6 separate regions of the Homo sapiens genome follow, and all the other regions are linked to region 5. Evidence: fine-mapped expression QTL. A gene starts in region 5. Each other region holds a variant in brackets. All regions are shown on one strand. Distances are from middle to middle.

Evidence for each region.
Region 1: its variant is fine-mapped to the expression of MAN2B1 in lung (TOPMed, PIP above 0.99). The same link has a PIP of 0.9 or more in T cells, atrial appendage, blood mononuclear cells, esophagus muscle, monocytes and nasal epithelium.
Region 2: its variant is fine-mapped to the expression of MAN2B1 in whole blood (TOPMed, PIP above 0.99).
Region 3: its variant is fine-mapped to the expression of MAN2B1 in whole blood (INTERVAL, PIP above 0.99).
Region 4: its variant is fine-mapped to the expression of MAN2B1 in whole blood (TOPMed, PIP above 0.99).
Region 6: its variant is fine-mapped to the expression of MAN2B1 in whole blood (TOPMed, PIP 0.98).

The regions. Positions count from the first base shown.
Region 1 is chr19:12,619,326-12,623,411 of GRCh38, forward strand. The region is part of intron 1 of ZNF791 (zinc finger protein 791); the gene reads left to right. Among named protein-coding and RNA genes, the nearest start is that of ZNF791, 10 kb to the left of the region's middle. The variant A/G (reference allele first, on the strand shown) is at 1,735.
Region 2 is chr19:12,555,970-12,560,055 of GRCh38, forward strand. It overlaps the pseudogene PGK1P2. Among named protein-coding and RNA genes, the nearest start is that of LINC02926, 6.3 kb to the left of the region's middle. The variant C/T (reference allele first, on the strand shown) is at 2,115.
Region 3 is chr19:12,703,069-12,707,143 of GRCh38, forward strand. TNPO2 (transportin 2) reads right to left here. Exons shown (of 26, transcript NM_001382241.1): 14 at 3,502-3,727; 15 at 3,128-3,299; 16 at 2,614-2,700; 17 at 2,424-2,531; 18 at 2,172-2,330; 19 at 646-733; 20 at 360-458. SNORD135 (small nucleolar RNA, C/D box 135) reads right to left here and starts at 603; the gene lies at 529-603. SNORD41 (small nucleolar RNA, C/D box 41) reads right to left here and starts at 3,450; the gene lies at 3,381-3,450. RefSeq lists enhancers at 1-376, 377-985. The variant C/CT (reference allele first, on the strand shown) is at 1,622.
Region 4 is chr19:12,628,360-12,632,445 of GRCh38, forward strand. ZNF791 (zinc finger protein 791) reads left to right here. Exons shown (of 4, transcript NM_153358.3): 4 at 1-4,086. The coding sequence ends at 901. Among named protein-coding and RNA genes, the nearest start is that of ZNF791, 19 kb to the left of the region's middle. The variant T/A (reference allele first, on the strand shown) is at 2,259.
Region 5 is chr19:12,664,873-12,668,943 of GRCh38, forward strand. It overlaps MAN2B1 (mannosidase alpha class 2B member 1), which reads right to left and starts at 1,870. Exons shown (of 24, transcript NM_000528.4): 1 at 1,671-1,870; 2 at 831-933; 3 at 480-653; 4 at 1-113. The coding sequence starts at 1,829. WDR83 (WD repeat domain 83) reads left to right here and starts at 1,935. Exons shown (of 11, transcript NM_001099737.3): 1 at 1,935-2,120; 2 at 3,636-3,755. WDR83OS (WD repeat domain 83 opposite strand) reads right to left here. Exons shown (of 4, transcript NM_016145.4): 3 at 3,648-3,745; 4 at 3,201-3,553. The coding sequence ends at 3,487. RefSeq lists enhancers at 1-488, 313-362, 489-1,436, 503-552, 1,093-1,142 and 2 more and a silencer at 1,733-2,012.
Region 6 is chr19:12,807,320-12,811,390 of GRCh38, forward strand. RNASEH2A (ribonuclease H2 subunit A) reads left to right here. Exons shown (of 8, transcript NM_006397.3): 3 at 1-10; 4 at 100-187; 5 at 2,752-2,889; 6 at 2,998-3,085. Among named protein-coding and RNA genes, the nearest start is that of RNASEH2A, 2.8 kb to the left of the region's middle. The variant C/T (reference allele first, on the strand shown) is at 2,310.

The sequences.
Region 1 (4,086 bases), 46 kb before region 5:
AAAATTACTGGATCTTGGTCAAGTTTAAATTTACAAACTTAAAAAAAGTGGTGGAGTGTATCAGTTGATCCTCCGTTTGTACATGATTGTTCTCTGTAGTCATCAACACTAATGTTATCTTTTTTTTTTTTTTTTTTTTTTTGAGACGGAGTCTCGATTTGTCTCCCAGGCTGGAGTGCAGTGGCGCGATCTGGGCTCACTGCAAGCTCCGCCTCCCGTGTTCACGCCATTCTCCTGCCTCAGCCTCTCGACTAGCTGGGACTACAGGCGCCCGCCACTTCTCCTGGCTAATTTTTTGTATTTTTAGTAGAGACGGGGTTTCACTGTGTTAGCCAGGATGCTCTCGATCTCCTGACCTCATGATCTACCTGCCTCGGCCTCCCCAAGTGCTGGGATTACAGGCGTGAGCCACCGCGCCCGGCCACTAATGTTATCTTAATCGACTAGTTTTGTCTTCCTACTCAGTTTGAAGTGGGAACTATTTGACATTTATATCCTCATTAGCAAGGAGATGAACCTTTTTTTTCTGTTTTTTTTTCTTTTTATTATTTAGTAAAAGGCTATATATGAAATCTTTATTTATTTATTTATTTTTATTTTATTTATTTATTTTTTTGAGACGGAGTCTCGCTCTGTCGCCCAGGTTGGAGTGCAGTGGCGCGATCTCGGCTCACTGCAAGCTCCGCCTCCCGGGTTCCCGCCATTCTCCTGCCTCAGCCTCCCGAGTAGCTGGGACTACAGGCGCCCGCCACGGCACCCAGCTAATTTTTTGTATTTTTAGTAGAGCCAGGATGGTCTCGATCTTCTGACCTCGTGATCCACCTGCCTTGGCCTCCCAAAGTGCTGGGATTACAGGTGTGAGCCACCGCACCTGGCCTGTCTTTATTTATTTTTGGCTGGAGTGCAGTGGTATAGTTATGGCTCACTGCAGCCTTGACTTTGCAGGCTCAAGCAATCCTCCCACCTCAGCCTCCCAAGTAGCTGAGACCACAGGCGTGCACCACCACGCCTGGCCAAGTTTTGTATATTTTATAGAGACAGGGTTTCACCATGTTGCCCAGGCTGGTCTCGAACTCCTGGGCTCAAACGATCTGCCCACCTCAGCCTCCCAAAGTGCTGGGATTATAGGCATGAGCCATCACGCCTGGCCAAAATGTTTATTTTCTATTAAATGTAAATGTAAATAAACCTTACAGAGAGCACCCAGGCATGCAGATGGACTTGTCACGAGGGAGAGCTCCCTGGAGCCAAATTTCTTCCTGCTCAGACCATAGTCCTAATTACTTAAGAAAACCCCTTCTAACTGTGTGGATCTTTTAACGTATGGTGCACATGAGTGCATGGAAATGAGAGAACCTGGGACAACAGCCCCTAGAGTGTCTGTCTGGGATCACTTCCTCCTGAAACTGGAGAAAGGGGATTTATGTTCTTTTTTTTTTTTTTTTTTTTTTTTGAGATAGAGTCTCGCTCTGTTGCCCAGGCTGGACTGCAGTGGTGCGATCTTGGCTCACTGCAACCTCTGCCTCCCGGGTTCAAGCGATTCTCCTGCCTCTGCCTCCCGAGTAGCTGAGATTACATGCATGCACCACCATGCCCAACTAATTTTTGTATTTTTAGTAGAGGCAGGGTTTCTCCATGTTGGCCAGGGTGGTCTCGAACTCCTGACCTGAGGTGATCCACCTGCCTCGGCCTCCCACAGTGCTGGGATTACAGGCATGAGCCATCCTGACCCAG[A/G]TTTTATGTTCTTTTGGAGGTATGAAATTACCTGTTAATTTTATAATCATGGGCAAATTCACCATCAGACCATTGTGGACATCAGTGAAGTCCCCTGAAAATTGATACTGTCAATCTATTCTTCAAGGTCAGCAAAGCCCAGATGACATGATTATGGATCTTCCAGAAAGTGCTCTTCTGACATTTTATCTCAATGTGTATATGTATTTGTGCTAAAAATTGGTTGGAAGCAGTTCTGAGGCTCATGGGTATAACGATTTTGTGAAAGTCTAAGTTGTGAGGGCCCCTTCCTTGTGCCTGAGCTGTCTTCCCAGTAACTTCCTAGTCTCACGAAATGGGACAGAAAGTAAAAGGAAAAACTGGGTCTATGATAGATATTACACACACAGCCGGGCGTGGTCGCTCATGCCTGTAATGCCAACACATAGGGATATATATATATCGGAAACAAGTTGAAATTAATACGTCTCTAAAAGAGTATTTCCATTCAGTCAGCAGAATCTGAGTGCTTCTGATGGCCTCAAATACTTCAGGACGATATAGGCAGCTAGACCTTCTTAAAAGTTGGATTTCCACAAGCCTCCTGGCCTCTCATGTATAACAAAAGGGGATAGAAGATTCTCAATGTGTATTTACTTATTAAAACCTCCACCTCGGTGGGGGGTCAGCCCCCCTGCCCGGCCAGCCGCCCCGTCCGGGAGGGAGGTGGGGGGGGTCAGCCCCCCCGCCCGGCCAGCCGCCCCGTCCGGGAGGTGAGGGGCGCCTCTGCCCGGCCACCACCCCGTCTGGGAGGTGTGCCTAACAGCTCATTGAGAACGGGCCAGGATGACAATGGCGGCTTTGTGGAATAGAAAGGCGGGAAAAGTGGGGAAAAGATTGAGAAATCGGATGGTTGCCGTGTCTGTGTAGAAAGTAGACATGGGAGACTTTTCATTTTGTTCTGCACTAAGAAAAATTCCTCTGCCTTGGGATCCTGTTGATCTGTGACCTTACCCCCAACCCTGTGCTCTCTGAAACATGTGCTGTGTCCACTCAGAGTTAAATGGATTAAGGGCGGTGCAAGATGTGCTTTGTTAAACAGATGCTTGAAGGCAGCATGCTCGTTAAGAGTCATCACCACTCCCTAATCTCAAGTAATCAGGGACACAAACACTGCGGAAGGCCGCAGGGTCCTCTGCCTAGGAAAACCAGAGACCTTTGTTCACTTGTTTATCTGCTGACCTTCCCTCCACTATTGTCCCATGACCCTGTCAAATCCCCCTCTGTGAGAAACACCCAAGAATTATCAATAAAAAAATAAATTAAAAAAAATAATAAATAAAAAAAATAATAAAAAAAAGACTGTCTCAAACAAAAAAAAAAAAAAAAAAAAACCTCCACCTCATTTAATCCCATATCTTAAGGAATGCTGAATGATTTGGGTAATAAGAAATTAGGCTGTGGGCTGGGTATGGTTATTCATACCTGTTATCACAACACTTTGGGAGGCCGGGGCAGGAGGATCACTTGGGGCCGAGAGTTAAAGGTCAACCTGGACAATATAACAAAACCCCAGCCGGAGGCAGTGGCTCACGCCTGTAATCCCAGCACTTTGGGTGGCCGAGGAGGGTGGATCACGAGGTCGGGAGTTCAAGACCAGCCTAGCCAAGATGGTGAAACCCCATCTCTACTAAAAATACAAAAAATTAGCTGGGCGTGGTGGCACGCGCCTATAATCCCAGCTACTTCGGAGGCTGAGGCAGAGAATTGCTTAAACCTGGAGGGGCGGAGGTTGCAGTGAGCCGAGATCGCACCACTGCACTCCTGCCTGGGTTACAGAGTGAGACTCCGTCTCAAAAAAAAAAAAAAAAAGAAAGAAAAAAAACCCATTTATCTGGGAGTGGTGTTGCACATCTGTAGTCCTAACTACTCGTGAAGCTGAGGCAGGAGGATGTCTTGGGGGCCCAGGGATTTGAGGCTACAGTGAGTTAGGATTGCTGCACTTGAGCCTAGGTGACAGAGCAAGACCCTGTCTCTTAGAAAACAACAAACAAACAAACAAGAAATAAGAATTTATCTCATAAAGAATTGAAGATCTTGCCTGTAATCTCAGCAATTTGAGAGGCCAAGGCTAGTGAATCGCTTGAGCTGAGGAGTTTGAGACCAGCCTGGGCAACATGGCAAAACCCCATCTCTACAAAAAATATACACAAAATACTTACCTAGGTGTAGTGGTGTGTTCCTGTAGTCCCAGCTACTCAGGAGGCTGAGGTTGGAGGATTGCTTGAGCCGGGAGGACTAGGCTCCAATGAACTGTGATTGTACCACTGCACTCCAGCCTAGGTAGCAGAGCGAGACCATCTATGTCTCAAA
Region 2 (4,086 bases), 110 kb before region 5:
TATAGAAGGCCTGTGTAGGCCAGGCACGGTGGTGGCTCACGCCTGTAATCACAGCACTTTGGGAGGCCAAGGCGGATGGATCACCTGAGGTCGGGAGTTCAAGACCAGCCTGACCAACATGGTGAAACCCGGTCTCTACTAAAAATACAAAAATTAGTCGGGCGTGGTGGCGGACGCCTGTAATCCCAGCTTCTCGGGAGGCTGAGGCAGGAGAATCACTTGCAGTGAGCCGAGCTCGCACCATTGCACTCTAGCCTGGGCAACAAGAGTGAAACTCCAGCTCAAAAAAAAAAGAAGAAGAAGGCCTGTGTCTATAATAGGAAAAAGCTGCTCAACTTCTCCCTCAACCTAAAATTTTTTTTATTTATTTAATTTTATTTGTTTGAGACAGAGTCTTTCTCTGTTGCCCAGGCTGGAGTGCAGTAGCGCAATCTTAGCTCACTGCAACCTCCGCCTCCCGGGTTCAAGTGATTCTCCTGCCTCAGCCTCCCAAGTAGCTGGTACTACAGGCCACACCACCACGCCCGGCTAATTTTTATATTTTTAGTAGACGGGGTTTCACTATGTTGGTCAGGCTACTCTCGACCCCCTGACCTCGTGATCCGCCCGCCTCAGCCTCCCAAAGTGCTGGGATTACAGGCGTGAGCAACCGCTCCCGGGTTTGTTTGTTTTGTTTGTTTGTTTGTTTTGAGACAGAGTCTCACTCTGTCGCTCAGGCTGGAGTGCAATGGCAGGATGTCAGCTCACTGCAACCTCCACGTCGCGGGTTCAAGTGATTCTTCTGCCTCAGCCTCCCAGGCAGCTGGGATTACAGGCACCCACCACCACGCCCCACTAATTTTTTTGTATTTTTGTAGAAATTGGGTTTCACCACATTTGCCAGGCTGGTCTCAAACTCCTGACCTCAGGTGATCTGCTGGCCTCAGCCTCCCAAACTGCTGGGATTACAGGTGCAAGCCAAGGCGCCTGGCCTTTCCTAGGAATTTTAAAACAAAATATGCAAAATATATTCATTTACGAACTCTACATTTGTCATTGCACTCCAGCCTGGGCAACAAGAACGAAACTCCGTCTCAAAAATAAATAAATAAATAAATAAAAATAAAAAATAAAATTCCTATGAAATATTGTCTTCTGAAAATTTGAGCATTTTTGCCCACTGGGTTGATGGAGACAGAAAGGGTTCTAGGCCAGAATGTTCATATTTGGAAGACTTTCAAATTATAACTGTTGTCACATGTTTGCAGTTTATTCAAGACTGCTGTTACATAGTGGAAAAATTAACTCCTTACTTCAAATGTCTAGTCTACCTAGATGTTTGGAAGTGTCCCACGTATATTAAATATAGAGGTAGTGAAATATCACTGTAAATATCTTTTTGTTAAAATTTATAGGAAACACTGCCTTTTGGAAATTGAATTGTTTAACCACCTTTGTGAGCAGTGTAGTACTGTGTATAGTTGTTCGATAGTTTAGAGGAGGTGGGAGGGAAGAAATTGCAAAAGGTAATAGGCCAGTGTGTTCATAATTGGACATTTTCAGACACTATTTTTCTGTATGTTTTGTGCATTTTGTTTTGCTCTGTATATAGCATATACAATGGGCAAATGCATCCTGATTTTGCAACATCTAATTGCTGGATGTTAAAGAGGTTGCCAGTGTGTGATAAAGTACTTAGTAAATTTAGCATATTTTGTATACTTTGTGTTGAAATTCATAGGAAACTTGTCTTCTGTGGATGACTTTTGGATAGGAGTTTGTTCAACCATCTCTAAGCATTACACATGCGTGTACTTGTCCACTGGATTGAAAGCAGAGAGAAGGAAGTGAGGAGGGAATGGTTCAAGGCCAAAATGGTCATATTTAGGAGATACCTCAGATTATAACCACGGTTACATGTGTGGAATTTTATTTAACAGTGCGTGTACATGGTGGACAAGTTAGATGAAATATCTAGTATTTCTAGATATTTGGAAGTGCTTCATGTATTTAAAAGTAGTAGTAGCATAACACTGTTTTTTGTTTTTGTTTTTGTTGAGACGGAGTCTCACTCTGTCACCCAGGCTGGAGTGCAGTGGCACGATATCGGCTCATTGCAACCTCCGCCTCCTGGG[C/T]TCAAGCAATTCTCCTGCCTCAGCCTCCTGAGTAGCTGGGATTACAGGGGTGCACCACCATGCCCAGCTACCTTTTGTGTTTTTAGTAGAGACAGGGTTTCACCATGTTGGCTAGGCTGGTCTTGAACTCCTGACCTCAGATGATCCACCCACCTAGGCCTCCCAAAGTGCTTGGATTACAGGCATGAGCCACTGCGCCCGGCAAATAATACTTTTTGTAAATAACTTTTAAAAACTGATGGGGCTGGGGCCAGGCACGGTGGCTCACGCCTGTAATCCCAGCACTTTGGGAGTCCAAGGCAGGTGGATCACGAGGTCAGGAGATCGAGACCATCCTGGCTAACATGGTGAAACCCTGTCTCTACTAAAAATACAAAAAATTAGCCAGGCGTGGTGGTGGGTGCCTGTAGTCCCAGCTACTTGGGAGGCTGAGGCAGGAGAATGGCGTGAACCTGGGAGACGGAGCTTGCAGTGAGCTGAGACTGCGCCACTGCACTCCAGCCTGGGTGACAGAGCGAGACTGTGTCTCAAAAAAAAAAACAAAAAAAAAAAAACAACTGATGGGGCACAGTGGCTCACGCCTGTAATCCCAACACTTTGGGTGGCTGAGGCTGGTGAATCATTTGAGGTCAGGAGTTCCAGAACAGCCTGGCCAACATGGCGAAACCCTGTCTCTACTGAAAACACAAAAAGTAGCTAGGCTTGGTGGTGAGTGCCTGTAATCCCTCAGCTACTCAGGAGGCTGAGGCACGAGAACCGCTTGAACCCAGGAGGCAGAGACTGCAGTGAGCTGAGATCGTGCCACTGCACTCCAACCTAGGTGACAGAGTGAGACTCTGTCTCAAAAAATAAAAAAAGAAAAAAAACTGGTGGGAAATACTCTTTGGAAGTAGAATTGTTGAACCACCTCTGTGAACAGTGTACTCTCTGTACTTGTTCATTGGGTTGACGGAGGTGGGTGAGATGAAATTTCCTGATTAGGACATTGTACTACAGCTATGCAACATGTTACCATTGAGAGAAAATGGCTGTATAATTTCCTACATGTGAATATGCAATGACCTCAAAATAAATTTTTGTTAAAAAGTACACCACTGGCCAGGTGCGGTGGCTCACGCCTGTAATCCCAGCACTTTGGGAGGCCGAGGTGGGTGGATCAGGAGGTCAGGAGATGGAGACCATCCTGGCTAACATGGTGAAACCCCGTCTCTACTAAAAATACAAAAAATTTGCCGGGTGTGGTGGCGGGAGCCTGTAGTTCCAGCTACTCGGGAGGCTGAGGCAGGAGACTGGCGTGAACCCAGGAGGCAGAGCTTGCAGTGAGCGGAGATCGCACCACTGCACTCCAGCCTGGGCAAGAGAGCGAGACTCCATCTCCAAAAAAAAAAAGTATACCACTGGATTCTGCAAACCTCCCGAGCACACGTCGGTAGCCGGCTCCCTGGCTGTCTGAATTACCAAGCTGTCTCCCCAGCTGTATTTCCAAAATGTCGCTTTCTAACAAGCTGATGCTGGACAAGCTGGACGTGAAAGGGAAGCCGGTCGTTATGAGAGTCGACTTCAATTTTCCTATGAAGAACAACCAGGTAACAAACAACTGGAGGATTAAGGCTGCTGTCCCAAGCATCAAATTCTGCTTGGACAATGGATCCAAGTCAGTAGTCCTTATAAGCCACCTAGGTTGGCCTGATGGTGTCCCTATGCCTGACAAGTACTCCTCAGAGCCAGTTGCTGTAGAACTCAAATCTCTGCTGGGCAAGGATGTTCTGTTCTTGAAGGACTGTGTAGGCCCAGAAGTGGAGAAAGCCTGTACCAACCCAGCTGCTGGGTCTGTCATCCTGCGGGAGAACCTCCGCTTTCATGTGGAGGAAGAGGGAAGGGAAAAGATGCTTCTGGGAACAAGGCTAATGCTGATCCAGCCAAATTAGAAGCTTTCCAAGCTTCACTTCCCAAGCTAGGGGAAGTCTATGTC
Region 3 (4,075 bases), 38 kb after region 5:
CCCCACCCAGAATCCCTGGCCAACCAGGGACAGACCCACACCCTCCAAACAACAGAGGCTTCTCTGGAGTCGCTAAGGTGACAACACGCTGCCCAAGTCAAAGGAAAAAAAAAGCCAAAGTCACCCAACCAATCCGAATGAGTCTTTTAGCCAACTACACAAAACGGTCCAATCAGAACAGCCCTCCTATCCCTCCTCTTTAGAGAAGCCAATCACAAATGACCTTTCTGCTTGGCTCCACCCCTGACGACCCCCAAGAGACTTGCCTTGAAGGAAGCTGTCAGTCAGAGCTAGGCTCCCGCCCCCAGGTTGAGAACAGGCTAATGGGGGGCGCGTGTTGCCACTTGCAGGGCACTCACCCATCTGCATGCAGATTTCACCAATGGCCCAGGTGGCGTTGTTGCAGACGGAGATGAACTCTGGGTTCAGGTTGGTGCCCAGAATGGGCATGAACTCGGCTGGTGGGGAGAAACAGGGGTGCTGAGAAGGAGGGCCAGCCAGGGTAAGCTGCAGGACCTAGTCCAGCAGGCCCCATCAGACAGTACGAATACATCCCAATGTGGTCACAGTCATCCCCGGGTATTGCTCTCCATCACTTGAGGCCGGGGCTGGGGTCATGGGTTAGGGACAAGGCGAGTGTCGTACCGATACAGGGCTTGACATGGATGAAGCAGGCTTTGGTGAGGTCTCCCAGGAGGGCAAAGGAGCTCTGCCGGACCTCAGGCATCGAGTCCTGGGGATTCAAGTAAGATCAGTGTGGCTAGGCTCCCCTCCTTCTAACCAGGACAGCTCAGGGGGCACAGTCCCTGGTGCATGTCCAGCCTCTGCCACTTTCCAGTTCTAGAGCTCCTAGCTGTTCCTTAACCTCCCTAGCCTCCAGCCCACATCTGCAAATGGGAGATGGCAGTGCCCCAACGGTCATCCCTCAGTGTCCGTGGGGGATTCTTTCCAGGTCCCTGCAGATATAAAAATCCACGGATGTGCAAGTCCTTGATATAAAGTGGCACAGTGTTAGGGCCAGGCGCAGTGGTTCATGCCTGTAATCTCCAGCACTTTGGCAGGCCGAGGCAGGCAGATCACTTGAGGTCAGGAGTTTGAGACCAGCCTGGCCAACATGGCAAAACCCTGTCTTTACTAAAAATACAATAAAATTAGCCAGGCATAGTGGGACACGCCTGTAGTCCCAGCTTCTTGAGAGGCTAAGGCAGGAGAACTGCTTGAACCCTGGAGGTGAAGGTTGCAGTGAGCCGAGATCACACCATTGCACTCCAGCCTGGGTGACAGAGTGAGACTCTGTCTCAAAAAACAGGTGGGGGGCGGTGGGGGGGGCATAGTGTTTGCATATGCACCTATGCACATTCTCCTGTACACTTAGCATCATCTCTAAATCACTTATATCTAATACAATGTCAACAGTATGGGAATAGTTGTTATACTGTATTGTTTAGGGAATAATAACAAGAACAAACTTCTGTATGCGTTCAGTACAGATGTAATTTTTCCTCTGAGTATTTTCAATCTGAGGTTACTTGAATCTTGGGATGTAGAACCCACAGATACAGAGAGCCAACTGTGCTGGGGCAGGGACTTGGGCTTTCACATTTTCTATTTTCTTTTCTTT[C/CT]TTTTTTTTTGAAGACAGAGTCTCAGTTTATTGCCCAGGCTGGAGTGCAGTGGCATGATCTCAGCTCACTGCAACCTCTGCCTCCTGGGTTCAAGCAATTCTCCTGCCTCAGCCTTCCAAGTAGCTGGGATTACAGGCGCCTACCACCATGCCTGGCTAATTTTTGTATTTTTCGTAGAGACAGGATTTCACCGTGTTGGCCAAGCTGCTCTCAAACTCCTGACCTCAAGTGATTCACCTGCCACAGCCTCCCAAAGTGCTGGATTATAGGCGTGAGCACCTGGCCTCACATTTTCTATTTTCAATACTGTTTGCTTTAAAAAAAATTTTTTTTTTTAATTTTAGAACTGGGGTTTCACTATGTTGCCCAGGCTGGTCTCAAACTCCTGGGCTCAAGCAATCCTGCCTCGGCCTCCAGGATTACTCTTTAAAATAATTAGAACAGCACCTTTTCCCTGATTTCCTTTGGGCACAACCAGGCCCTGACTCCCCACCAGGGGCAGCCCACGCAGGCTGCTGGGTGTCATCACTGTCCAGGGTCCCCACCCACCTGCATGCACTGGAACAGCAATGTCATGATGTTGCTGCGGGCCACCAGCTGCTCCACGTGACCACCCAGGCCCTCGGCCAGGCCGCTGAGCAGATCCAGTGCTACGATCATGAAGTCCTTGTCGGGAGCCTCATACTGCTCAGGGTGCTGGGTGTACATCTAGACACAGATGCCGACAGGGGCACGGGTAAGTGGAGCAGGCCCGAGGCAGGCCAATGCAGAAGCACAGGTGACGGGCCTAGGGTTGCTCACCATGGCCTGAGCCAGTGTCTTCTGCACCAGGGTGACACAGCGCTGGTAGACGGGCTCACAGTAAGGCAGGAAGCCACTCTGCAGGGCGGTGGCCACCGATGACAGACACTGGCAGGGAGGAAGGCAGGTGGGGAGAACTCAGGCAGGGTGGGCAGGATGGGTTTCGGGTGAGGGGCAGGAGCCCACTCACCTCCAGCAGGGGGAAGAGGTCCTTGTCTTCGTCCTTGAGCTCATTCCACTTCTGGATCAGTGGGGGCATCAGCTTCTGGATGTATTCCTGGAGAGGGAGCACGAAATGGGCGCTCCCTGGGTCGGGGTGGCAGACTGTGACTCAGGTACCTGTTGCCCGAGTGATGAGGCCTGAGCGCCTCACCGTGGCTCATGGGACCCTGAAAGGCCTGCCATCTGGCCAGACCTCGAGGCCTTCATTCTTCTCACCTGTCCAAGCACCGCCCGCCCCACCCCACCCCCCGGGAGCCTGGGTTACCACCTCCTGGTTCCCGAAGCACAGCACTTACCACGCTGTCTCATAACTGTCTTTCTCCCCCACTAGACTGGGAGCAGGGCGAGGGCGGGGCCGGGTCTGTCTGTCTGCCTGTCGAGGTCACGGCCACGTCCCTGGCGTGCAACACGGGGTTGCCACCAGGTCACTGGATGCCCAGGGGCACGGGGATCGGGAGGCGGGAGCCGCTCTGGGGTCTCACCGGCTGGTTGAGGTGGTGGCCTACAGAGTCGGCCAGGGTGCCAATGGCGTCATAGAGGATGAGCAGGTTCTTGTGCTGGTATTTCCCAAAGGCAAAGACAAGGGTGTCCAGGATGTAGCTGAGGTAGGGCACCAGCTCCGTGCAGGCCTCTTCCTCCAGGGTGGCAAAAGCACTGGTGGGAGGGAGGATGAAGCGGGGGCTCAGTGGACCATGGCAGGTGACACTGGGCCATGGGCAGTTGGGGAGGGCAACTCAGGATCAGCCAGTACGAATACGCGATAAATCAGTTCCACATCAACAGTCACAGGTGTCATCACTTCCCAGAGGGTGGCCGGGGGAGAGTGGGGGCTGTGGGATCAGGGGTCCAGGGTCACCTGCAGGCCGCCTCCTGTACCCTCTTGTTGCCATCCAGGATGCGTTTGAGCAGCTCTGTCATCAGGGGCTTGAGGTGCATGTCGGGTGGCTGGCTGACCACCCAGTGGGCATAGCGGCTCAGCGTCCAGCAGGCGATGGAGCGGACCAAGGCCTTCTTATCCGACAGGCACTGGATCAGGTGCGGGATCAGCTCAGGCAGGTAGGGCACCATGCCCTGCATGCAGCCTACAAGGAAAGGGAACCAAGAGGGGGCAGTTTGATTGGGCCCAGCCACACCCACCGTATGGAGAGAAGAGTCAGCCGCACACAACATATAGGGAAACTGAGGCTTAGAGTTTAAATCACTGGCCCAGACTCATTTCACAGAGCCAGGTAAAGGCAGGCACAGGAGGGGAAACAACAGAAGCCTCTCATCCCAAAGCCCCGGGTTATCTTTATTTTTTTTTGAGGCAGAGTCTCGCTCTGTCGCCCAGGCTGGGGCGCAGTGGTACGATCATGGCTCACCGCAACCTTCACCTCCTGGTTCAAACAATTCTCCTGCCTCAGCCTCCCAAGTAGCTGGGATTACAGGCC
Region 4 (4,086 bases), 37 kb before region 5:
TGGAAAGGCATTCATTTTTCCCAGTTTTTTACGAGTACATGAAAGAATTCACACTGGAGAGAAACCCTATAAATGTAAACAATGTGGTAAAGCCTTCAGATGTTCCACCTCCATTCAAATTCATGAAAGAATTCATACTGGAGAGAAGCCCTATAAATGTAAAGAATGTGGGAAATCTTTCAGTGCACGCCCAGCCTTTCGAGTACACGTGAGAGTGCATACTGGAGAGAAACCCTATAAGTGTAAAGAATGTGGGAAAGCCTTTAGTAGAATCAGTTACTTTCGAATACATGAAAGGACTCACACTGGAGAGAAACCCTACGAATGTAAAAAATGTGGGAAAACTTTCAATTATCCTCTAGATTTGAAAATCCACAAGAGAAATCACACTGGAGAAAAACCCTATGAGTGTAAGGAATGTGCAAAAACCTTCATTTCTCTTGAGAACTTTCGAAGACACATGATCACCCACACTGGAGACGGACCTTATAAATGTAGGGACTGTGGGAAGGTGTTCATTTTTCCTAGTGCGTTACGAACACATGAAAGAACTCACACTGGAGAGAAACCCTATGAATGTAAACAATGTGGAAAAGCCTTTAGTTGTTCTAGTTACATTCGGATACATAAAAGAACTCACACTGGGGAGAAACCTTATGAATGTAAGGAATGCGGGAAGGCCTTTATTTATCCCACAAGCTTTCAAGGACACATGAGAATGCATACTGGAGAGAAACCCTATAAATGTAAAGAATGTGGGAAGGCCTTTAGTCTTCACAGTTCCTTTCAAAGACATACAAGAATTCACAATTATGAGAAACCTCTTGAATGTAAGCAATGTGGAAAAGCCTTCAGTGTGTCCACATCCTTAAAAAAACATATGAGAATGCACAATCGATAGAAACTCTATAAATGTGAGAAATAGGAGAAAGTTTTCAATTCTAACAGATGCTTTCAAAGTTGTGAAAATTCCCACTGAAGAGAGAAATCCTGTCAATGTAAGTAATATAGAAAGCGAGATACAAGATGATTCATGTATAGTCAGGTACCACATAATCATGTTTCAGTCAGCAATGGACCATATAGGTTGGTAGCCCCATAAGATTATATAACACCTAAAACATTTCTATCAACCGCAATTTAGTAGCAGTAGTAACACCATAGTGCAGCACATTATTTAAGTGTTTATGGTGCTGGTGTAAACGTGCTGCACTTTCAGTTGTATAAAAGTACAAGACAGCGGCCGGGGACGGTGGCTCACGCCTGTAATCCCAGCACTTTGGGAGGCCAAGGCGGGCGGATCACGAGGCCAGGAGATCAAGACCATCCTGGCTAACACGGTAAAACCCCATCTCTACTAAAAATACAAACAATTAGCCGGGCGTGGTGGTGGGCGCCTGTAGTCCCAGCTACTTGGGAGGCTGAGGCAGGAGAATGGCATAAACCCAGGAGGCCGAGCTGACAGTGAGCTGAGATCCGGCCAACAGAGCGAGACTCTGTCTCAAAAAAAAAAAAAAAAAAAAAGTACAACACAGCTGGGCATGGTCACACCTGTGATCCCAACACTGGGAGACTAAGGCAGTAGGATTGCTTGATGCCAGGACTACTCTGGTCAACCTAGTGAGACCCTGTCTCTACAAAAAATAAAAACATTTTCTAAGTGTGGTAGCACACCCTGTAGTCCCATCTACATGGGAGGCTGAGGCAGGAGGATTGCCTGAGCCCAGGAGTTCAAGGCTACAGTGAACCAAGATCACGTGATGGCAGTCCAGCATGGGTGACAGTGAGACTGTATCAAAAAAAAAAAAAAAAAATTGGCTGGGCACAGTGGCTCATACCTGTAATCCCAGCACTTTGGGAGGCTGAGGTGGGAGAATCAGTTGAGGTCAGGAGTTCAAGACCAGCCTGGTCAACATGATGAAACCCTGTCTCCATTAGAAATACGAAAATTAGCTGGGCGTTCTGGTGTGCCTGTAGTCCCAGCTACTTGGGAGGCCAAAGCAGGAGAATCGCTTGAACCCGGGAGGTGGAGATTGCAGTGAGCTGAGATCTACCACTACACTCCAGCCTGGGTGACAGAGCGAGACTCCGTCTCGAAAAAAAAAAAATTACAGCACAGATGTGCAATATATACTTGATAATAAATGGCTAAGTTACTGGTTTATATATTTACAATCCTGTTTTAGAATGTATTCCTGTGTTTTTTTAACAGTAAGACAGTCTCAGGCAGGTCCTTAAGGAGATATTCCCGGAAAAAC[T/A]TTGTTATGATAGGCGATGACGGCTCCATGTGCAGGACTGCCCCTGAACGTATTCTGGCGGGACAAAACATGGAGGCAGAAGACAATGATATTGATGATCCTCACCCCGTGTAGTCCTACACTAATGTGTGTTTGTGTCTTAGTTAGTCTTTAACAAAAATAGTTTAAAAAAATTTAATAGAAAAAGCTTATAGAATATGGACATAAAATATTTTTGTACAGCTGTACAATGTGTTTTAAGCTAAATTATTACAAAGTTTTTAAAAATAAGTTTATAAAGAAAATAATGTACAGTAAGTTAAGGTTTATTCATTATTGAGGAAAAAATGTTTTTATGAATGTAGTGTAGTCCAAGTGTACAGTGTTTATAAATTCTCCATTAGTGTACAGTAACATCCTGGGCCTTCGCATTCACTCACCACTCAACTGACTCACCCAGAGCAACTTCTAGTCCTGCAAGCTATGTTCATGGAGTGTCCTATGCAGGTGCATCCTTTTTTATCTTTTATACTGCATGTTTACTCTGTGTATTTTCTGTGTTTAGACTCATAAATACTTAACATTTTGTTACAATTTCCTACAGTGTTCAGTACAACAACATGTTGTATGGTTTATAGCCTAGTAGCAATAGACTGTACCATATAGTCTAGATGTGTTGTAGCTATACCATCTAGATTTGTGTAAGTTCACTTTGTGATGTTTGTACCATGAGGAAATCACCTACAACACGTTTCTCAGAACATATACCCATGATTAAGCAATCTCTGCCTGTAAAATGCTCCAGAAAATTCACACCATGATATAAATTCATCACACACGATATAAAAGTTAAGGCAAGGCATGGTGGCTCATGCCTGTAATCCCAGCACTTTGGGAGGCCAAGGCAGGCAGATCACCTGAGGTCAGGAGTTCGAGACCAGCCTGGCCAAGACGGTGAAACCCCATCTCTACTAAAAATACAAAAATTACCTGAGCGTGGTGGCATGCACCTGTAATTCCAGCTACTTGGGAGGCTGAAGCAGGAGAATCATTTGAACCTGGGAGGTGGAGGCTGCAGTGAGCTGAGATTGTGCCACTACACTCCAGCCTGGGCAACAGAGCAAGACTCCATCCCACACACCAAAAAAAAGTTAAAAATTTTTTATCACTGGCTCATTCTTCAAGTACATCTCTGGACTATGAATTGTAACTTAACTACTTTTCCAAGAAGTCTTGGAAGTGAGATAATTCTGTAAGTACTCTTTAAGCAGTGGTCAAAAGTTTAAAAGGTTGTGTTTTCTCATTAAATCAGTTAGTAAAACTTTTCTCTTTCTCTTGATGTCTTGATTCATGAGTAAACTGAAGTGTATTTTTTTTTTTTCGAGACGGAGTCTTGCTCTGTTGCCCAGGCTGGAGTTCAGCGGTGTGATCTCGGCTCACTGCAAGCTCCGCCTCCCGGGTCCACGCCATTCTCCTGCCTCAGCCTCCCCAGTAGCTGGGACTGCAGGCGCCCGCCACCATGCCCAGCTAATTTTTTTTGTATTTTTAGTAGAGATGGGGTTTCACCGTGTTAAGCCAGGATGGTCTCAATCTCCTGACCTCGTGATTCGACCGCCTCAGCCTCCCAAAGTGCTGGGATTACAAGCTTGAGCCACCGCACCCGGCCTGAAGTGTATTTTTTTTTTCTTTTAAAGACCAGTGTTAGTAGAAGTGTATTTTTAATATACAATTAGTTTTAATTTGTGTATAGTTTTTCAGTTGTTCTCTGAATAAAGAGATTGTTGAATACTGACACACTGTAACTAGGATTTTTCCTACTGGCCTCATGTGGAAGGTGGTGCATATATTA
Region 5 (4,071 bases):
AAATGTGTCCTCCAGAAAGCGCAGCCCAAGTGTCATCTGGTCCACGATGGCACCGTAGTGGGTGGCTGCCTCATCGTTCATCACCCAGCCACCATTGGCGAACTCCAGGCGCCCTGTGCCAGGACAGGCAAGGTCAGGGTCAGCGGTCAGAGCCAGGAGTGGGAGTAGGGTGGGTGATACTGGGAATGTGAAAGCCTGCCTGTGTACACATTTCTGGCGGAAGGACAAGAGGGGTCGCTCCCAGGCCATAGTTCCCAGATATGGGAAAGAGGCCCCCTGCATGGCAGGCTTCCCAGAGGATGCACAGCAGGTGGGGCTTTGTGGGATGTATAGGAGGTCTCCAAATGGAGAGTCCAGGCAGGCGGAGCGACACGCATGTTATACAGCTTGCACGTGGCATGACAAATCTCAGAAACCAGAGATGCAGAAGCAGAAGCTGGGCTGGGCTTCCTCTTTTCACTTCCTTGGGGTAGGCTCACCCTGGCGCACAAGGTCTCGCACGACTTCCTGTGTGGCATTTGTCTGCTGGTGCCACCAACGGGAGAAGAAGGCAATCTCCACGTAAATGAAGCGACGGGTGGGATCTGCCAGCAAGGCAGAGATGACCGAGTCCAGGATGTACTGCACACCGGCGTGCTGGATGTCATTCTTGACTGTGGATAACAGGGATAAGGCTCTCAGGGAACAGCAGAGCCAAGGGGGTTATTCCTAGACAGAGGAGCCCAAACCCTGGATATTAGGGTAGCACTGGCCCCACCCTAATGTCCAGGACCCAGAGGGATTACAGGGACCATGGGGATCCCAGGGACCAGTCCCCATCCTCTACTCACTTCCATAAAAGTACTGGTCCACGGTTTTGAGCCAGCCCACGTCATCATGTGTGTGAGGCAGCAGGTGCACGTTCAGCATGTTCGGCTGCACTGTGGGGCATGTCTGCACAGGGACCCCAAACACACATACCTTGTCAATAACCCCCGAGGTCGGGGGCTGCAGAGTAAGTCTTGATCTAGAGGTGAGTGACTCAGAGAGGCCTGATCTCGCCTATGTGCAGAGGAGGCCAGGCCCTCCCAGGCAGGACACACACATACATAGTTGTGCTCATAGATACAACTCCACTTTGCACAACCCCACAGGGCAGCTCTCATTCACACTCCGGGAAAATAATAATAGAAGTAGCTGATGTTTGTTCAGCATTTGCCGACAGCAGACGGCCACCGTGGGAGGTGGGGTGATGTTATCCCCAGTTTCCAGATGAAGGCACTGAGGCTTAGAGAGGATAGGTGACTTGCCCAACGTCACACACTCAGGAAGTGTAAGAGCTAGGCTGGAATTTCAGGCAGACTCCAGAGTCCCAGCTCTCAGCCAGCACCTCCCCCCACACATACACTGCTCACCCCCTGCCACCTCCTGCCCCTCCAATCCCACAGTTAAGTGCAGACAAAGTCTAGGCAAGCATCCCGGAGACACGGAGGCAGGTACAATCAGACACAGTCCTATACTCAGATGCGCACAGCCAGACCTCGCAATGACACAAAGCACGCACTCAGACCACACTGTCATATCATCAGCCATTCACTAGACACCCACAGGACAGACCCACCCACACCTCTAGACTGTATTCTGGGTTTCACTCTGCCTCCTGTACGTTTCAGCTCGGAGGCCCCACTCACCTCGTATCCCCCGGCCCGAGCACCGGCAGCCGCCAGCAACAAAAGGAAAAAGCAGAGAGGCGGGAGCGGTGGCCGCAGGGCGCGGGACATGGTCCAGGGGCCTGCTGAGTCCAGGCAGCCGCGAGCGCAGACCCCCGAAGCCCGCGCGTAGGCGCCCATGGCTCAGCAGCTTCCTCCTGGGGTTCCCCGGCCCTGGAAAGGCCGGGCAAACGCCCCGCCCCCAGACCCGGCCGGGCCAATCGGGGTGGGGGGCGGGGCCAGGGCGCGGTCTGGAGGCTCACGGGAGAGAGGCTGTAGCCCTGGGCAATCCCGGGGGTCGTTACAGGAAGGTAGGAAAATGCCACCCTCAGGGCACTGGTTGGGCTAAAGGTGACACTGGCGTCTCACGGGCTATGAAGACGGAATGCCTCTTAATGCCGGAATTCCAAGACGGAATGCCTCTTAATGCCGGTAGGAGCAGAAGTGCTTTTCCTAAGGGGGCCGGGTTTTCCTAGCCGGTGTAGTGTGTCCATGGGAATCCAGGGTGTCCGTCCCATGGACCTTCAGCGCTAGGGTCCTGGAAGGACCTAGCTTGCCTAAGAGGAGGATCTGATGAAGAGTCCTATACTGTGGGGATTGGGACGTTGGGTAAATACCCCTGGAGTACCAGGGATGGGATCCAGCCTGGTTGAGAAGGATCCCTGGGTGTTCCGGAGAGAAAAGAGGGTCTGACAAGTGGGGAAGGACCCCGAGTCTTTCATGCCTTTCCCAATTCCTACCAGTTCATTCTCTGATAAGAAAACAAAGCCCAGGGCAGGCGCAGTGGCTCAAGCCTGCAATCCCAGCACTTTGGGAGGGCCAGGCTGGTGAATCACTTGGGCCTGGGAGTTTGAGACCAGCCTGGGCAACATGGGTTGTTTTGTAGAGACGGGTTTGAAAACACAAAATTTGTAATTTTACACAAAATGTAAAAATACAAAAATTAGCTGGGCATGGTGGCACATGCCTGTAATCCCAGCTACTTGGGAGACTGAGGCAGGAGAATCACTTGAACCTGGGAGGCGGAGGTTGCAGTGAGCCGAGATCAAGATCATGCCATTGCCCTCCAGCCTGGGCAACAAGAGCAAAACTCTGTCTCAAAAAAAACAAGAATTAACTGGGCATGGTAGCACGCATTTGTGGTCCCAGTTACGTGGCAGGCTGAGGTGGGAGGATTGCTTGAGCCCAGGAGTTTGAGGCTGCAGTGAACATAGATTGTGCCACTGCACTCAGCCTGCATGACAGATCAAGACCATTTTCTTTCTTAAAAAGGAAAAAAAAAAAAGGAAACCAAAGCCTAGATTATCTAGGTCAGCAGGGCCATCTGGTGAGTTGCCAGAGGGCAGAAGTCACTGTCTTGTCCCTAGCACCTGACTTAAGACACAAGGTTTATGAAGTAAGCAAATGAACAGCCAGAAGCCTCCAGACTGGGGCCCCACACCAGGCCTATGGGGCTAGAGCCCTTCCCGCCAGGTAGGAGGAACACCCCACTGAACAGAAGAGGCTGACAGCCAGAGTGAAAAACTTTATTAACAACAGGTTTCAACGAGAAAGCAAATGAATACCCCTAGAAACATGGACAGCATCTCCCCCAGCAGCAGGCAGGGGAAGGGAGGCAGGAGGGGTAAGCCTAGGGTGTTCCCTAGGAAAGGGCCAGGTTCCCTCTATCCAGCTGGGGGCACCGAGACGGCCTCATTCAGGGAAGTCCAGGATGGCAGCTGAAGGCAGCAGGTTTAGCAGCCAAAGCCCAGGCCTAGTGGATAGACAGGGTCCAAAATGTGACCCTTCTAGGCTGGTATCACCATGGGGGCGTCATGGGCTGAGGATTCTGCAGATAGGACATCACCACGGCAGAGATGGACAGCCTGAGACAGGAGAGAGGTGTCAGTCTAGGATGGCCAGGCTGGGGTCCCCCCACCCCTTACTCAAGAGTCACTTGTTCTGTAGGGCAAGTCTCACATGAAGCTACTCATCATTTGCTTCGTGTCCTCCGAGCTCCGAGAGTTGGCAAAGCTGATGAAGGAGCAGTAGACAGCGACCCAAGCACACCACTTCAGCTAGGGAAAGGTAAGTGGGTGGGCAGGTTAGTGAAAGGCACAACAATGAGTCCCCGAAGCCACCTTTCCAGACACCAGATCATGCCCACTGATTCCATCTGATGCAGCTGGGACCTTGCCCCACCCGGAATTCCTCAGTCCCACCTGCTCATGGCATACTCTAGATACGTGGTTTCTAGTCCTACTGTCTGGCCTGCGTCTCTCAGGACCAAGAGAGACTCTGACATCCCACATGCTTAAGACCCTGCCCTTTTTCCACAACTCCTCTCCAAGTTGCTTCAAAGCCTGGCCCCACTCGCAGACCAATCTGCCACATCCCCAACCTG
Region 6 (4,071 bases), 140 kb after region 5:
TGCTTGGGCGGTGAGGGGTCCCCGGGAGGGGCAGCCAGCATGGGCTGACCAAGCTTTGTTCCTAGAATGAGATTAACTGGGCTCTGTTCCCCACCACAGGGTCAAATACAACCTGAACTCCCTGTCACATGATACAGCCACTGGGCTTATACAGTATGCATTGGACCAGGGCGTGAACGTCACCCAGGTGAGTTAACTGTAAGTTGTCCCCATTTGGTCATCTCAGGATAAAATGGGGACAAAACAGGAGTTCGAGACTGCAGTGAGCCATGATCATGCCACAGCACTCCATCCTGGGTGACAAAGGAAGCCCCCCAACTCAAAAATGGAGGCAGGGCGCAGTGGCTCACGCCTATAATCGCAGCACTTTGGGAAGCCGCGGCGGGTAGATCACCGGAGGTCAAGAGTTCGAGACCAGCCTGACCAACATGGTGAAACCCCGTCTCTACTAAAAATACAAAAATTAGCTGGACGTGGTGGCAGGCGCCTGTAATCCTAGCTACTCAGGAGGCTGAGACAGGAGAATCGCTTGAACCCAGGAGGCAGAAGTTGCAGTGAGCCAAGATTGTGCCATTGCACTCCAACCCGGGCAACAGAGCAAGACCCTGTCTCAAAAAAATAAAAAATAAAAAATAAACTAAAAATGGGAGACCAGGCGCAGTGGCTCACGGCTGTAATCCCAGCGTTTCAGGAGGCTGAGGCAGGCAGATCACCTGAGGTCAGGAGTTGAAGACCATCCTGGCCAACATGGTGAAACCTCATCTCTACTGAAAATACAAAAAATTAGCCCAGCATGGTGGCGGGTGCCTGTAATCCCACCTATTGGTGAGGCCGAGGCAGAAGAATTGCTCGAACCCGGGAGGCGGAGGTTGCAGTGAGGTGAGATCGCGCCATTGCACTCCAGCCTGGGGGACAGAGCGAAAAATAAAAATAAAAATAAAATAAAAAATAAATGTGGGCAAAAATGTGCAGTGTGCAGATTCAGCATCAGATACGTCTGGAGTGCCTCGGGCATATTCATTGCTACTGTTGATTTCGTGCTCCTGTTTCTGCCCTAAATGTGTGCCACACTGACGACCACAGTGTAGCCCCTAGTCCCGTCTCCATCTAATCTCTCCCTCATCCTAAAGGCTCAGTCTCCAGAACAAATCCTACATTGTCTACCTGTCACCTCTGTCCTAGCCCAGGACACCCCCCACTCCCTGGACACCTGCTGAGTGTCGTCTCTCGTCCCTCACCCTCCTATCCCCTCCAATCTGTTCCCCAAGCAGCAACAGAAGGTAGTCTTTTTGAAATGCACATCTCGACATTTAGTTTTCCGATCACAGTGGAAATTAAATCAGGAAAATTCACAGTCGAGTGGGGCAGAATTACATTAAATTACCAGAGAAAAACATAAATCAGCATTGCCTCGAATGCTCTCAATGAAAGAATGGACCGTTCTGAGAGAATAACAAGGCAAAATAACCTTGACGTAGGAATTGTATGCTGGGTATGGTGGCTCACGCCTGTAATCCCAGCACTTTGGGAAGCTGAGGTGAGCAAATTGGTTGAGGCTAGGAGTTCCAGACCAGCCTGGGCAACATAGCGAGACTCCATCTCCACAAAAAGAAGAAGAAAGAAAGGAATTATAGCAAGGTAGACCCTGCTGAGGAGGGACCTGAGGACCAGGCCCAAATGCAGAGCTGGCGATACAGTAACTGGTGTAGACAGACAAGGGCCCTACCCGTAGGCGTTCAGGGCCTAGCCTGGGCAGAAAGATGGTCAGCTGGAGGTTGGGCGCAGTAGCTCACGCCTGTAATCCCAGCACTTTGGGAGGCCGAGGCGGGCGGATCATCAGGTCAGGAGTTCGAGACCAGCCTGACCAACATGGTGAAACCCCATCTCTACTAAAAATAAAAAATAAAAAAATAAAACATGAAAGATGGTCAGCTGGTAAACAAAAAATAAAGGTTGTTTCTGAAAACAGTAGTGCTGTGGAGATACCACTTTCCCCCAGCAGCTCTTGGACCCTCTCTTCGGTGCTGCAGCCAAAGGCCCCCATGCATGGGCCCAGCATCATGAACCTGGTCCCAGCTCAGGGCCTTTGTACTGGCTGTTCTCACACCTAGAGCCCTCTTCCCCAGATCTCTGCACAGTTCACTTCCTCACCTCCTTCAAGCCTTTATTCACCACTACACCTAGCTAACTTTTTATTTTTTGTAGAAACAGGGTCTCCATATGTTGCCCAGGTTGGTCTCAACCACCTGCCCTCAAGCGATCCTCCCACTTCGGCTTCCTAAAGTGTTGGGATTACAGGCTTGTGCTAA[C/T]GCACTCTACCAATTTTTTTCTAGTGTTTTCTGCCACCTCAGTTCCTAGAACAGTATGTGGCATGCAGTAGGTGCTAAATAAGTTAGAGTAAAAGCAGCGTGATAGAGAAAGCCTCTTCAGGAGGTGAGTTTTTTCTTTATTTTATTGTATTTATTTTATGTTTTTATAAAGATGGGGTCTCACTGTGTTGCCAAGCCTGGCCTCAAACTCCCAGGATCAAGCGATCCTCCCGCCTCAGCCTCCCAAAGTGCTGGGATCACAGGCCTGAACAACTTTGCCTGGTCTAGGAGGAGATGTTCGAGTTGAAATCCCTGATTGATCCATCCTGGGGACGTGCTGGAGAAGAGGATTCTGGGTAGCAGGAAGAACGTGCCAGGGCTGTGAGGCTAGAGCATTGGTACAGTTGTTTGTTCAATTAATATGTGTCTGTTGCTGTGGCAGGTATTCGTGGACACCGTAGGGATGCCAGAGACATACCAGGCGCGGCTGCAGCAAAGTTTTCCCGGGATTGAGGTGACGGTCAAGGCCAAAGCAGATGCCCTCTACCCGGTGGTTAGTGCTGCCAGCATCTGTGCCAAGGTCAGTACCCTACTAGCCATGGCTGGCTTCCACCATCCCACTATATAGGGGCCAGGCATGGCCACCAAAGGGAAGGAGGGAGATTCCAGGTGCCTGTTTTGCCCACAGGTGGCCCGGGACCAGGCCGTGAAGAAATGGCAGTTCGTGGAGAAACTGCAGGACTTGGATACTGATTATGGCTCAGGCTACCCCAATGGTGAGCAGACACGTGACCATGGTACTAATGTTGAAATGGCCAGGGCTGAGCACACTTCTGAGGTTTTCTTTTTTTCCTTTCTGTCATTTATCATTTTATTTTGCTTATTTTTTGTTTTTATTTGTTATTTTTGTTTATTTTTTGAGACGGAGTTTCGCTCTTTTTGCCCAGGCTGGAGTGTAATGGTGCGATCTCGGCTCACCGCAACCTCCACCTCCTGGCTTCAAGCGATTCTCCTGCCTCAGCCTCGCGAGTAGCTGGGATTACAGGCATGTGCCACCACACCCAGCTAATTTTGTGTTTTTAGTAGAGACTAGTTTTCTCCATGTTGGTCAGGCTGGTCTTGAACTCCTGACCTCAGGTGATCTGCCTGGCTCAGCCTCCCAAAGTGCTGGGATTACAGGCATGAGCCACCGTGCCCAGCCTATTTTTTGTTTTTATAGAGATGGGGTCTTGTCATGTTGCCCAGGCTGGTCTCAAATTCCTGGAGTCAAGCAGTCCTCCCACCTTGGTCTTTCAAAGTGCTGGGATTACAGCCATGAGCCACCACCCCTGGCCCTTTTTTTCTTCTTTTTTTAAAGAGATGGGGTCTCCCTATGTTGCCCAGCCTGGTCTTGAATTCCTGGGCTTAAGTGATCCTCCTGCCTTGGACTCCCAAATAGCTAGGATTACAGGTGTGAACTACTGTGCCTGGCTGGAGGTTTTCTAAATTGCTCTGGTCACCCTACTCCACAGTGAAAGAGGCCAAGTGTTAGACAGTGGTGCCATTTGTTTATGGCCACACAGCCAGTGAGTGATAGAGCTGAATTCCAGGCCATAGGATTGCTGCTGTCTTCCCCGCTTCCCACTTTGCTGTCTTTCTGGAGCCCCAGTGATGGACTGAGACCCAAGGTGGGCATTTGTCCCTTTGTTAAGGGGAAGGGGACCAGGCGTGGTGGCTCATGCCTGTAATCCCAGCACTTTGGGAAGCTGAGGTAGGAGAACCG